Linked DNA regions of Homo sapiens. The protein of the gene in region 1 interacts with the protein of each later gene in a pairwise test. Each region holds a gene or a part of one and is shown on either strand. Other genes may lie near its edges.

What was found. The genes of interacting proteins can lie anywhere in the genome.
Region 2: the proteins of INTU (region 1) and DAAM1 interact in binary tests that used the Homo sapiens proteins (3 or more experiments, as listed by UniProt).

The regions. Positions count from the first base shown.
Region 1 is NC_000004.12:127,628,564-127,635,991, forward strand, and holds the start of INTU (protein inturned), read left to right. Parts: upstream 1-4,393; 5' UTR 4,394-4,471; coding exon 4,472-4,617; intron 4,618-7,428. UniProt on the Homo sapiens protein: Plays a key role in ciliogenesis and embryonic development.
Region 2 is NC_000014.9:59,324,667-59,331,702, reverse strand, and holds part of DAAM1 (disheveled-associated activator of morphogenesis 1), read right to left. Parts: intron 6,040-7,036; coding exon 5,973-6,039; intron 5,744-5,972; coding exon 5,626-5,743; intron 5,194-5,625; coding exon 5,055-5,193; intron 4,771-5,054; coding exon 4,712-4,770; intron 1,203-4,711; coding exon 1,015-1,202; intron 495-1,014; coding exon 195-494; intron 1-194. UniProt on the Homo sapiens protein: Binds to disheveled (Dvl) and Rho, and mediates Wnt-induced Dvl-Rho complex formation. May play a role as a scaffolding protein to recruit Rho-GDP and Rho-GEF, thereby enhancing Rho-GTP formation. Can direct nucleation and elongation of new actin filaments.

The sequences.
Region 1 (7,428 bases):
GATTCCAAACAGTCCTGTGAAGTAAGTACCATTTTCTGAATTTACAGATAAGGAAAGTGAAGCTTGTGGAGGTCATTTGCTCAAGGTTACGTGGATGATGGATTCTAGAACAGGGAGAGAGGTCTGTCTGCCAGGCTTAAATTCAGGAGGTGGAAGTGGGTTCCGGCCTATTCAGGGAATGACTAGTGGGCCCGTATGCATGAAGCACAGAACTGAGGGAAAGTTTAGGGCAGTTTCTCAAGTTTGCTGAATCACTGGGGGCACTTGTTTAAAATAGAGATTTCCAGGCCCCTCTCCTGGAGATTCTGATCCTGTTGATGTGGAGCAGGGCCTCAAAATCTGTATAACAAGCTCCAGTTGATTCTTTTGAATAGACAAGTTGATCAGCTTGATTAACTTACGATGTAACATGGAATAAACCATTTAATTCTGAATTGGTGTTCAATTGTTTGTAGAATTGGAGAAAAAAATTTAAAAGAAGCTACACAGTTTGGACTTTGTTCTCTATTTAAGGAGGTGCCATGCAAGGTTTATGAGGCAGGGTATGAAACTACTAGATGCTTACAAAAAAAAATTGATGAAAAATTTGTAGGAAGAAAATGTGATATTTTCCTAAAATTTGTAAATGTCCTTTTTTAATTTCTTATTTTATTTTTTACTTCCAATAAGTTGCTTTTAAAACAAGGAAAGGTTAACTTATTAAAGAGGTAACTAAAGCACTTTTTATTTTGAAATGGAATCTTAAATCATTTCTAATGTTTAAGATTGTGGTGAAAGTAAGCATATATATTTTACCATGAAACTCAAAATAATGAGTATAGGGACTCCAGCTTTTTAAAATAATATTGTTTCTCTGATTTTAAAAGTAATACATTTTTTGTTGGATCTCAATGCTAATGGAAATATTTGTTTCCCTTCCTTCCTGTCTCCACTTTCTTCAAACTTCCGACCCCATTACTTCCTCCATCACGTTCAGCTGGCAAGGTTGCAGCCTACTTACCAGACGATAAACACTGTCACATGGAGACTGCCTCAGCTTCCTGCCTGAAACTGGCAAGTCACCATCCACACCAGCACCCTTCTTTGGCTCTTTCTTCTAGTTTTAGGGAAGAGGTGTCCAGGGAGGTCATATCCCTCCTTCTGTGCCTTGGATGCTATCCCCTCCTACCACCTCAAGGACCTCCTGTTACCAGAAAGGGGTCCCAATCCAGACCCCAAGAGAGTTCTTGGACCTTACCCAAGAAAGAATTCGGGGCAAGTTCATAGAGTAAATTGAACGCAAGTTTATTAAGAAAGTAAAGGAAAAAAGAAGGGCTACTCCATAGGCAAAGCAGCGGCATGGGCTGCTTGACTGAGTATACTTATAGTTATTTCTTGATTATATGCTAAACAAGGGGTGGATTATTCATGAGTTTTCTGGGAAAGGGGGAGTAGTACCCAGAACTGAGGGGTCTTCCCTTTTTTAGAATATATTAGATAACTTCCTGACATTGCCATGGCGTTTGTAAACTGTCATGATGCTGATGGGAGTGTCTTTTAGCAACTAATGCTCATTATCCTCACTGCTCACTGTACTCTAATTATGATTCGCGTATAGTGAGCAGTGAGGATGACCAGAGGTCACTTTTGTAGCCATCTTGGTTTTGGTAAGTTTTGGCTGGCTTCTTTACCGCAGCCTGTTTTATCAGCAAGGTCTTTGTGACCTGTATCTTGTGCCGACCTCCTATCTTGTCCTGTGACTAAGAATGCCTAACCTCCTGAGTAGCAGCCCAGTAGGTCTCAGCCTTATTTTACCCAGCCCCTATTCAAGATGGAGTCGCTCTGGTTCAAATGCCTCTGACACTCCTTTTGCCCATTACCCCTTTACAAACTCCTCCTCCTGTTCTTCAACTTTAGTAACATATAGACCTCTTTTAAGGAAAAACTATTGTGGATTTCCATGGATGACTTAAGTTTTTTAATTATAATTTTAAATAAATGAGGTATAATCTGTGCTTTATAGCTCCTATATAAGATGAAAACAATTTTATGAATTAATACAAATAAATTACAAAATGTAATCGCTGTTATAACACTATAAAAACACATTTAGAAATTAAAACAAAACCATAAAACCTAGGAAATTCAAATGTATATAGTTTAATGTACATTTGTACATGTAATATACAAATTCAAATGTACATAGTTTAATGTATATTTGTACATGTAATGTACAGTTAATGTAAATACAACTAAACTTCAGCTTAAAAGTATAAGCTGCATACTGCAGCTTGTTTGGCTGTGAGGAAGGTAAAATATACTATCCTGGCCATTTAAGTTTAATACACTTGAAAAACAGCAAGTGCCTTTGTGCTGCTTCTTAAAAGCAACAGATGAAGCTCCCATGTGAAAGACACCCTCCCTATACTAGAAAAATGTAACATTCTTATTCTCAAGGGCATAGAAGTGAAACCAAGAGAATTCTGTACAGACCTTGTTAAAATAACTTATCTTTTAAGCTTCCCAATTTAGTTTAGTTGCTTCTTCACAACTAACTATTCTTTGTCCAATCCAGTATATAAGTTAACTGACTCTAACTGCTTCTTTGGGTCTTCATTTCTTTATGAGGGCTCCCCTGCCATGTAAAACTTGGATTCTAGAGCAAGGAGAGAGGTCTGTCTGCCAGGCTCAAATTTGCGAGGTGGGAGTGGGTTCCAGCCTATTCAGGGAATGGCCAGTTGGCCTGTATAGATGAAGCACAGAACTGAGAGAAAATTTAGGGCAGTTCCCCAAGTTTGCTGAATCACAGGGGGCACTTGTTTGAAATAGAGATTTCCAGGCCCCTCCACTGGAGATTCTGATCCTGTTGATGTGGAGCAGGGCCTCAACATCTGTATAACAAGTTCCAGTTGCTTTTCTTTTGTTAATCTATTTTAGGTAAGTTTAATTCTCAGGCCCAGCTGGGACCCTAAGAAGATGGAGGTAGAGTTTTTCTGCCCCTGCAACAGCTACAATTCAGGTTCCTTTGAGTTCTCCATGCATATACCCATACCGGCCATGTGATGACTCATCTCCCATTACTCTTTCTCTGTTGGAACCATGCCATAATAACAATATAAATTAATACTTCCTCTAAGAAATTTGTCATGGCCCCACGTATACTACTTTGGTTTTTTCTGGATATTCCATTAGAACCTTGTATTTATTGTAATACTTATCACTATGTTATAATTGCCCATTAGAGAATCCCCAGCACCCAGCCTTTTAGATCATAAAATAACATTATATCCTTTTTTTACACGCTGCAACATGAACATTTCCCCCATGCTTTACTCTTTGAACACATTCTAGTTAAAATCATAATCATCATATTTTATATATATTTAACTTTTCCCCCATTATTTGACATTTTAAGATTGCTTTCAGCTTTTCACTTTTACAAATTTTATAAATTTGCATCCTTTCTCAGAGTAGATATCTAATAGTTGAATTACTGGGTTCTGAGGGAGGAAATTTCATGTAATGGTTATTGACTTAGGTTCATTTCTTGGTTGACTTTGTTGACTGCTAGCCATGTAACCATTAGTAAGATGCATAACTTCTCTAAAGCTTAGTTTCCTTATTTAATATAGAGAAAATATTTACTTCATAGTATGTGAATGCTCAGCATTGTATATGAATAAAGTGAGCAGAGCCAAGGCTGACTCTCAATCAATGCTAGCTGTTATTTTTGTACTTAAAAAATACTTGATATAGGTATTCATAAATAACAGGTAGATTTTACCTGTTTACACTTCCAACTTTAATAATGAGAACACTTAATTAGATTATAAAATTTTGAGTTAGAAAATGAACATGAAGTTGATTCCACAGGATTGCCACTCATTTGTGGCACTCTACAATACCCACTTGGGATAACCGTGAAAATGTTTGCAATTGCGAAACAATATGAAACCCATAAAACAATGGAGCGTATTTACATTAACACCTAGATCGCGTTGCTTAAAAGCGTCCATTACTTGCACGGATGAGGTCCTAAGGAAAGGTAAAGTGCGGTTTCCTTCACCTCGAAGGAAATCCAGGCTGACCGACAGCTGTTAGGCATTAGAAACACAGGACAAAGAGCAAACTGGATATCCAGCACTGGAAGAAAAAGGTGAGAAGCCCAGTGCATCTCCGCCTGTTTTAACAGGTTATGCTGCTCTAAGGAATTGCGTTCCGGAGAGCGTAAGCGGTGAAGTTTTAGCTATTTCTATCCTTCCAACTGAGAAGCCCTCCTGGAAGTTTCAGCCCATTGGCTGCTTTCTGTTCTCCCTGTTTCTTCTGGGAAGCTTCTCCGTCTCCCTGGCAACGCGACCTGCCACCAATTGCAGCTAAGGATTGGTGGTCACATGGCCTCTGCCCCTTCCCAAGCAGAGGCAACATGGCGGCCTTAGCAAGCTATAGCTGCGAGATTTGAATTACTCCACTCGTAGCTATTGCATTCCTGACGATGGCCTCTGTGGCTTCGTGCGATTCGCGTCCGAGCTCAGACGAGCTCCCTGGAGACCCCTCTTCACAAGAAGAAGATGAGGACTATGATTTTGAAGATCGGGTCAGCGACTCGGGTTCATATTCCTCAGCGAGTAGCGATTATGAGTAAGGTTTTCAAAGAGGGACAATTAATCCCATCCCATCAATCCAGAGAATATACACGTGGGCTGGGGGAACTGCAAGGGTGTTGGCGTGGTTGGAATCGAGTATTTGGGGTTCTATAATAAGTGGGATTTAATTGCACCACGTTCCATTGTATGGTGGTGTGAGCAGAAATGACGATGCCATTCTTTGCTACTGTAGGTTGTTTTTTGTTTGTTTTGTTTTGTTTTTTCAATGATTCTTAGATGAGGAGAATCTCCTCTTTTTGGTCATGGGCTCTGTCTAGGCCATAGGAGGATATATCTGTAACAGCGTTCAAAAAACTCTGTTTCGATCGCAGTGTCTTGATTCTTTGGTGTGACCTTTGTGGCTTAATCTCTTTAGTATTTGGAGTGGAGAGACACCCTACGCGTTTTATAAGGCAGTTGTTAAATTTATGTAGATTTTTTCTGTTATGGAAATGAATAGCTATATAACAGAAGGAACGCCCACCCATAGTCTCACCATCAAGGACAACCTCTCAGCACTTCTGGATATTTCTGCTGTATTTTCCTATGCATCTCCATGATTTTCTTGTTTTCCATTTTACGTCATAATTTAATTTTTAAAAATACAGATACCTAAAGGTTTCACTTTCTTAATAATGCCATGAAAAGGTTATTTTGATTCACAGTATTCAGTGCTACTTCATTTTTAAGAAAAATCTACCCCTTACTGCTATGGATTAAGAACTTTAGAAAAGTCAACTAGCAGTAGCTTGAAGAGAATGACTAATCGTGAAAAAGTTTTGGTGCCAAAATGTCAACTAACCCAGTAATGGACAACCATACCTGGTCAGTTTTAGGATGACATTTTATGTGTATTTAGGAACAACAGTTACAAATCATTTATATGTATGTAGGAGCAACTGTTATTTGGCAATTGTTTTTACCTATCAGTATGTAAAAGATTTTTATCATTGCCTTTAAAAGTATGGTGGGGAAACCTGTTTAATACATTCTTGAAGACTTAAACAAATTTTAAAATATCGTATTTTTTTGTAATCTGCTGTAGGCATTAAAAAAATAATTTTAAAATTCATGATTATTACACAAGGCTGCTGGAAGGAAATATGAATTACATAGAACCTTATTTGGTCTTGGTATGTGAAGCCATAGACAGTGTAAGACTCAAACTCTTGGCTTCTCCACATTTTAGAGTCGCATACTTTTAGCCCAGAAAGAATCTATGATTCATGTATAGTTGCACAGCTGAGTGTTGTCAGTGTGAGAATTCAAGACGCCTGATACCTAATGGGCCACCATGACTTTGATGGGATTAAAATAGTGAACTTTGTTTCCTAGGAAATGACCAATCTGAGGACCTTGTGATAGGAGAACTTGTCACTTAAAAGAATAAAAGTATTTCATGATTCAAAATACATGTATGTATGTTATATTTTAGCTTTTAAAAAATGATCATTAAGCTTTTCACATGTCACTAATCACGCCACATGTTCTAGTGTCTTTATCCTCCTAATAATAAAAGTATAGAAAATCCCTATCATAAGATGTTTTGCTGGTCTGTATTTCAAGTCCTACCAAGTTTCAAATTTTAAGTCTGTCCCTTCTTGATTTGTAGGACATGAGGGTTAATTTGCTGAACTTACCAGGAAGGCTTATGTTCGGTTCTTCCCTTATGGTAGATGTTTACTTCCCTAAGCTGCAGTCATCATTACAAACAGTGGCCTTCCCAACTTGTACAGAACCACTCTTTAATCAAAGGCACAGGAATGCCAACCTTAGTCTTTCTCATTAAAGCAAAGACATGAATTTCCTATTGTATTTCATGGACTACGTGAAGCTTACTAAGGAAGTTGTACTGCATATTGACTCACATAAAGTATCCTGAATTTTCAAGGTTTTAGTTAACTGCGTGTTCTTTTTAGAAGTTACTGTTTCATACATGCTTTGTACCTGAGCTGTATGTGATTGTCAATATAGAATTTAAAAGTTTATCATCTTGGAGATAAAATTACATTATGGTAAATTCTGGTAGAGTTCTTTTAATAGGTTTGTTTTAGGTTTGTTAGAGAATAAGAGTTTATATTGCTGCAGTATGTCTTAAGTTGACACATGGGCACATACCCTGGGAGGCTTCCGAGATAATACTGGTGGGTTGGTTGGGTTGAGGGAGCCATTAGCTAGTTTTAGCATTAAGATAACAGAAATCACACATTCACCTGCAACAATGCCAAGTTACCAGCTAATATGCCTAGTTCATGTTACAGAGAGTTTGTCAATGTTGTGACTTGGATTTTTAATTTTTCAAAGTGAATTTTTTGTTGTTGTTACATCAGTTTTAAAACTGGCTGATGGAGAGAAACAGGAATCATTTTAAATGAGATATTAGCTGTTAAAGCTAAGGAACTTCCACCTAAAACACAAGGATTGGCTGGAGAAGGGAGGTATGTCCTTTAAATTTTTTTCTGGGACTTTAAAAATAGCTTCATTGAAGGATAATTTATATACAAAAAACTGCACATATTTTTAATGTACAATTTGATGTTTTAACATGTATACGTCTGTCAAGAAAATGAACATATCCATCTCGCCTAAGAGTCTCCCCATGTACCTACTTAAGTCCATTTATGCCTCTCCTGATAACCATTTATCTGCTTTTTGTCACTCTATAGGAGTTTGTAGTTTCTAAAGTTTCATAAAGATGGAATTGTGCAGTATGAATGTTCTTTTTTGTCTGCCTTCTTTTATTCAGCATAATTACTTTGAGATTCATCCATGTTGTTGCCCCCATTAATAGTTCATCTCTCGGCTA
Region 2 (7,036 bases), on another chromosome or scaffold:
CAAAGTGACGGGTTTCAAACAATGTGTCATTTATTTCAGAAGCTTTATCACTTAAATATCTGAGCTAGTGAGAACTCTTGGTCCACATTAGAAAATGAAATCATTTAACAGCCAGGGCTGTTTTCCCTTTCAGTGATAACACAATGAGCTGCTAATGCTATCCATTAAAGGGAAAACTGGAACAAATGGCTCACCTCGGGCAGTTTAGACCAGTTGAAGGATTTCAGGGCATTTGTGGGCTGAGGAATGCTTTTCTTCTTCAGTGCTAGGCCCATTGGAGCACCAGGAGGTGGCATGATTGCCCCTAAGGGAGGAGGCCCTGGGGGAGGAGGAGGGCCACCTGGAGGGAGGGGAGGCGGTGGAGGGGGAAGCATCCCACCTGGTAGAGGTGGGGGTGGTGGGGGAGGAAGGAGAGATCCAGGCACAGAGGAAGGAAAGGGCCCTCCTGGTGCTCCAGGCGAGGGTCCACCTGGGATTGAAGCACAGACGGCCCTCTGAAAAGATAAAAATAGGAAAAGAAAGATCAATGGAAGAAGTAAATTCATTGAATGATTTAAGAGTCTGTAACTTGGCCTAAAATGTTTATTATAGAGAAATTCACCCTTCTGAGAATGTTTAAAGGATCGGTAAAGTCGAATGGACTCTTTTGGGCCTTTATGGACTCCAGTGCATCAACCTTTTGTACCTGACACTCAAGTACTTGTCTGGGATGCATTCATATCTCTCTCACTTCTTGCACCATCACAGACAGTCTGGTTTTCATGAAGTCAGTTTTCACTTTAAGAAGCTAATGCAATTTCCTTTGCTCTTAGATTTGTACAGTATTTAAAAATGCACCCCCAAACAGCCTCTGCTGCCTACATGATAGCAGAGGGAGTGAGTCTCCTAATTGTGATGAATCATGAGCCATTTCAGATTTTATTCCCCCAGTATGAAGTTCTCTACTTAAGGGTGAGGGGCTCTAGGGTCAGTGAGGCCTTGGCAGCTGCCCGTGAGCTGAGCGGAAGACCTCACCCTGCTGAGCTCATGGAGCTGTGCTGTGAGGTCCGCCACCTGCTGCTTGACTTGCTTATGCTCAGTAGTCTCCTTTTCAAGTTTCTCTTTCATTTTATTTAAGGTCTGCATCATCTCTTCCTTCTCTTGAGTCTTAGCATCACATTCTCGTTCTTTCTTTTCCAGTTTCTGTTGTAGCTCATTGTGCTCTACACGAGAAAACAATTGGACATGAAAACAGGAGAGTCTTCAAAGCTGAAGCATTTTCTCTAAAAGAAAATTGACTGAGGATGATGGCAGAGATTATGAGGATCTTTATTAGGTAAATATTATTCCTCTTCTCCATCAAAGGGAGCAACTCAAAGGCTAAATGATGTTTGTGCTTGGAGTGGGCTTCGGATGAACAATGTTATTATTAACTACGTAAGAGACTGAAGAAGAGAGCCTACACTCACAGTTCTAAACACAGAACAAAAGTTTGAGTGACTTCTTGTGGAGGAGAATGGTAACTGTTTGGTAGTTGATTCAGAATCTTGTCATTAAAATGGTCCTTTAGCAATACAAGGAAAAAAATAAATATTCAAATGGCCTCTTTTCACAAATTAGAAGTGAGACAAAGAGTAGTTCAGCTTTTATGAATTAGGTTTGCCAGCTCACATCCAACCAGCCGAAGGGCTGGAAGGGAGGGTCTCACCTGTGAGGAAGAGCTGCTGTCAGACCCAGGGTTTGTCCCCAGATGGAATCACTTCTCCCATCTCCCCTCAGAAGGCTACTTGAAGTATTTTATGCTTTCAGTAAACAATTATTAAGGCATATGAAAGCAAATGTTATCATCTCAGTATTAAATATCTTAAGGGGAGTGGGGTCAGTAGAACGCGAAAATCATGGTAACACAGGGGAGAAAAATATTGACTCTTAGCTGTAGTTTTACTGACTTCCTCAATCCTGCTATAATAAAACAGGGCATCCAATTCAGCATAATGCATATTCACATTGCCAATGAATACAAGCTTGCTGAAAGGAGTGATGAGTTTTGGAAAAGAGAACTAACAAAGTTTAGGCTGCGGATTTTTATTTCAAATACATGTCCCCAATTCCTATTCTTTTTATATCAATAAATCCACTAGAGGTATAACCCACTGGGGCCGAGCTATACTAATAGAGCTGGTCTCTATTTCTGAATTTGCTAACACATTTAAATTCTTGTTTTCTCTGTCTCTGACCTTCTCTCTCCTGAGTTCCCCCAAATTAGAGTTTACAGAGAGGAGTTCAAGCCACTAAAATCCCTGGATTTTGTCAGCAATCCACTTCTACCACTCTGTTGTTGCCTCCCTAACTTCTCCAGAAATACATCCAAAAATGACCTCTCTATATCCCATTTTCCTTCTTTTATCTCCATTTCATTCTTCTTTCACAATTTCAGGACTAGAAACTTGCCTTCCTCTCACTGGTCATTAGCTTTTGATGAAGCTGGCTGTGTCTCAGAATTACCTGAGAACTTTCAGCATTTCAAGACTCCCCAGACACTATTCCAAGAAGTCTATTTTGTAGGTCGACTACAGGGCTTAGATGATCCTGATGTATGCCAGGTTTGGGAAGCTCCAGCCTAAATGACTCTCTCCACAAATGGTATCTATTTACCATTCAGTCACTAAGCTTTTATTGAGCACTTCCTGGGTGTGCTGCCCTAAAGAGAATTCTCCCCAAATATTCTCTACATTTTAGGTCCACAGAACTTCTGTCTCCTTATCACTTCTACCCTTGGACTATTTTAACAAAATATGCCCTCTTGAATACAATTTTGCCACCTGAAGCTTCTAGAAAAAAACTAACATTTAACTATAATCTTTCCTCTTTTAGACTCTACCCATCATTTCACTTTAAAACACTAAAACAACCTGTTCCTCCCACTGACATTGGTGATTTTCTTTTGTACCATCTCAGCCACCTAAATCCTGCAACAGTGGCTATCATTTATTGTGCAACTAGTATGTGCCAGACACTATGCTAATGATCTTATATTTGTTTTGTCATTTAATCTTCACAACCACGCTGTGAGTCAGGATTAATCCTCAGGTTGCAAAGGTCGAGACTGGGGGAGAAGAGAGGAAATCACTTAGCCCATCCACACAGTGAGAAAGGGGGAGAGCTGAGACTCAGACCCAGAGCTCAGCACAGTGCCTGACACATACAGGCATTCAACAGGTATTCACTGAATGAACGAATGAATGAATGACTCGAAAGCTTACATCCTAAGTGCTCTCCTCAACCTGCACACTTGAGTCTCCATGCTCTAGAGTGTATTCCTAAAATATCCACTCATTGACTATTTTCTCTTTGGTTTAATCTCTTTACCCTGATTTTTAGTCAATGTTTCTATCATTTTTGTAGCAGTTTCTGAAATTTATTTTTTAAAATGCATGTGCAATGTCACTTATTTGGGAGCAATCTGAATACATATGAGGAACTCGTAACATAACAGTAGTTAGTTCACAATTGGTATTTTCTGATATCAGTTATGGCCCTGCTTTTCTGCTCAGTGGAAATGTGATGAGAGAAAAGGAAATGCTTAGGCATCTCTGGGACCTGCTTTTCAGCACATTAAATATTGGGGTGAATGCTATTGTATTTCATTGGCTGTGAGTGAATAACTTGGACAAGGAAAAGGAAGTCAGTTAACCAGTATGGTGAGAGCATGGTAGCTGGCAGTATGATTATTTCCACAAAGAGGCCAACTTCAATTTGTTAATATTTTAAAACAGGAAGGAAAATTACATACATTTCTCTGTATGGCTGGTACACTGATGGACATAAATGTCTCTCCTATCATTTGATACTAAGAGATAATATCAAAGACATATTCAAATACACACTAATAGCTGGCCAGCTAATGTTTCGTAACACATATCTCAGCAATGGTCACTGATTTTCTGAATGACTTCTCTTTTTATAACTGGTACCAAATCAAGGTCATGGACAGAATTGGGTTATTGAAACCAAGTAGGCCGGGCGCGGTGGCTCACGCCTGCAATCCCAGCACTTTGGGCAGCCAAGGCGGGTGGATCACGAGGTCAGGAGATTGAGACCATCCTGACTAACATAGTGAAACCCCATCTCTAATAAAAATACAAAAAATTAGCCGGATGTGATGGCGGGCGCCGGTAGTCCCAGCTACTCGGGAGGCTGAGGCAGGAGAATGACGTGAACTTAGGAGGTGGAACTTGCAGTGAGCCGAGATGGCGCCACTGATTCCAGCCTGGGTGACAGAGCAAGACTCCATCTCAAAAAAAAAAAAAAAAAAAAAAAAGAAACCAAGTGACCTGTTCTTCTCTTTTAAAATTTTGGATAATTCCTCAAGTCCCTTATTACATTTCTTAAAACCCAGTATGATTTAAAGAGCCATGACGGAGTAGGGGAAGGGTTTGAATTATTAGTAGTTAAGAAAATTTGATTTAAGGAATACTGAACAGCAAATGCTATAAGCTTTTCAAAACATTTACATGATTATAATAAAAGGATAAAATATTTGAGAATCAGTATGACAACTAAAATAGCTCAATTTAAGAAACTCAGTGCAAAATGCCCTTAAAAGATGGAAAAAGAAAGGCTGCCTGCACCAAGCTAACAAGAAACATCAATGTAAATTTCCAAAATATATGGAAATCAAGGTCACCCAATAACCAATAACACAGCCTCTTATCAGGGCCTCATTATTTACCTTTTCTCATTTTTTCCGCTTGTTCTTTCCACTGCTTAACTTCATTTTCATTAACCAACCTGTGTAAGAGTTCAAGGAGCATTTATTACAAAAAATATAAAAGGTCCACTGCTAACTGCATTCTCCCCAGGTACAAAAATAGTCTACTGCAGAGAAAATCCTCAGTGCATGCTTGAAACCCATTTAAGACCAGATGTTACTTAGCTATAGTGCATGTGTACAGTAACTCATATTTGACCCCTAGAACATTTCAGCTCTCCCAGCTGTTACTCTGAAGTAGGATAAAATAAATATCTTACATTGTCACCATTATCTCACAGCAGCAGAATAAGAAGAGACTTACATTCGTACGACATTCTTAATATTAAAGTTTTCCAAAGGTGTGGAGTCAGGGTCCTGTCCTTTGTCATTCTGGATAACTATCTGCTGTATAATTCTATCTAGTAGTAGCCAGTACTGAACAGTGTTGCCACTCCTCTTGTCTAAAAAAGAAAAGAATAGTGAAAAAAAATCTTCAAGTTGTTTCTAAGCTAGGATGAATATTTGTCAATGGTGGTCACCCTTTAAAGCCACCAAACCAGAGATGTTTATAACATCTGCACCAATGCTTCCCAAAGTTATGGAATTTTGACATGCAATGATCATTTATTTGATTGAGAGGTACCCTCTACCCCTTTCTGAACAGGTTGTAAGGCATATTTTTTATTTTTAAAATCAAAATTTTAATTTGTTTCATTTAAAAAATTTTGTAACACCCTTTAAGCCATGTAGACACACATACTTGGCTGTCATAAAACCAAGGCTTGGAATCCCTGGTGTGCACCCAATGTAATCAGCACTGTGCAGGAGCCAGAACCCATTAGGACAATGTCCAAACATTCAGAAGCACACATGTGAGTCACGAACACACTTACAAGGCATTTGGAGGCAGTGGTGCAGGATGGACATGAAATGCGGGTAAGCTTCACTATGTGTCAGCCTCTTCCTGGTCAGCTCAAACATCTGAGTTGCACTTTTTGTGTCTATGTGAACCTATTTCACAGGAAAAAGAAATCAAATCAAACATCTAAGTTCCTCAGTTTCCCCAGTGTAAAGTAAACTCAAAGCAAACAGAAGCTAATCCTGCCACTTAGGAAACAAAATAGAGCTTTGAGTTTGCTTTTAGGTTGCCCTAAAGTCCATGTGGACTCTACAACACACATTACAGACAGAAATAATGTGAACTGATGAATCAAACCAGAATAATTGTAAGCATACGTACCAGTTCAAATCTTTTGGCAAATTCTAGTTCATCTTCATTTCGGAGCATTTCAAAAAAGTCTAAATGCCTGAAAAATAATGAAAGAAAAGTTATTAAGTAGAACATCCTATAAACACAGGTGCATAAGACTGAGGACATTAATATCATGGTTTTTCCTGACTTTTCAGAGATATCTCAAAAAGGAACAATGTAACAAAATTTGAAAGCTTCAACTTTGTTCTTTCTAAGAAAAAAAGACATCACCTGAGCGAAACAGATCACAATATGAGAAAAATTTAAAAGTCTACGATGCCTAGCATACAGTAGGCAATTATTAAATTAAAACTAAATCTAAAAACAATCAAGTTCAGATTCCACTATGGATTCCCTTTATGGAAAAACATGCCCATATACCTACACTTAACTTCCAGCTGAATTAAAGATCACAAAAGAAATGATCATGCCATTCATTTATTCAGTCACATATGTATTGAGCTCCTACTATGTATTCTACACACCCAGGATACATTTTATGAAGACAAACACATCAGGGTAAAGGAAATAGAAAATGATGGCAGATGAGGTGAATAATGTACACACAGTGGTTAGAACAGGTCTCTCTCCAGGGAACTAGGGAACCAACAATTTGGACATCTGTGAAAGATCTTTTGAAGCTGAGGAAACAGCAAGCGCAAAGGCACTGATGCAAGAGTGTTCACAGAATATCAAGAAGAAGAGCATGTTGGAGTATATGAATATACAGGAGAGGAGAGCCGTGGTAGAGAAAAGCTCTGAAAGCAAGTTGGGATAGCTTAGACTCAGTGAAATGATAGCAAACGATGAAATGAACAGGTAGTGGAAATTAACATTCACAGAATGCCTATCAAAGGGGCTAAGTAATTCCATAGGTTTTATAGTCAATTTTTACATCATTCCTGGAAAATCACTGTCATTATCATCATCACCACCAGCACTATCTTTTGCAGTTATAAAAACAGCAAAATTCAGAAAAATTGAGTAACTTCACCAGGATACACAGGAATAAGAGGCAGGACTAGGATAGGATATGAATTCAGGTCTAATGC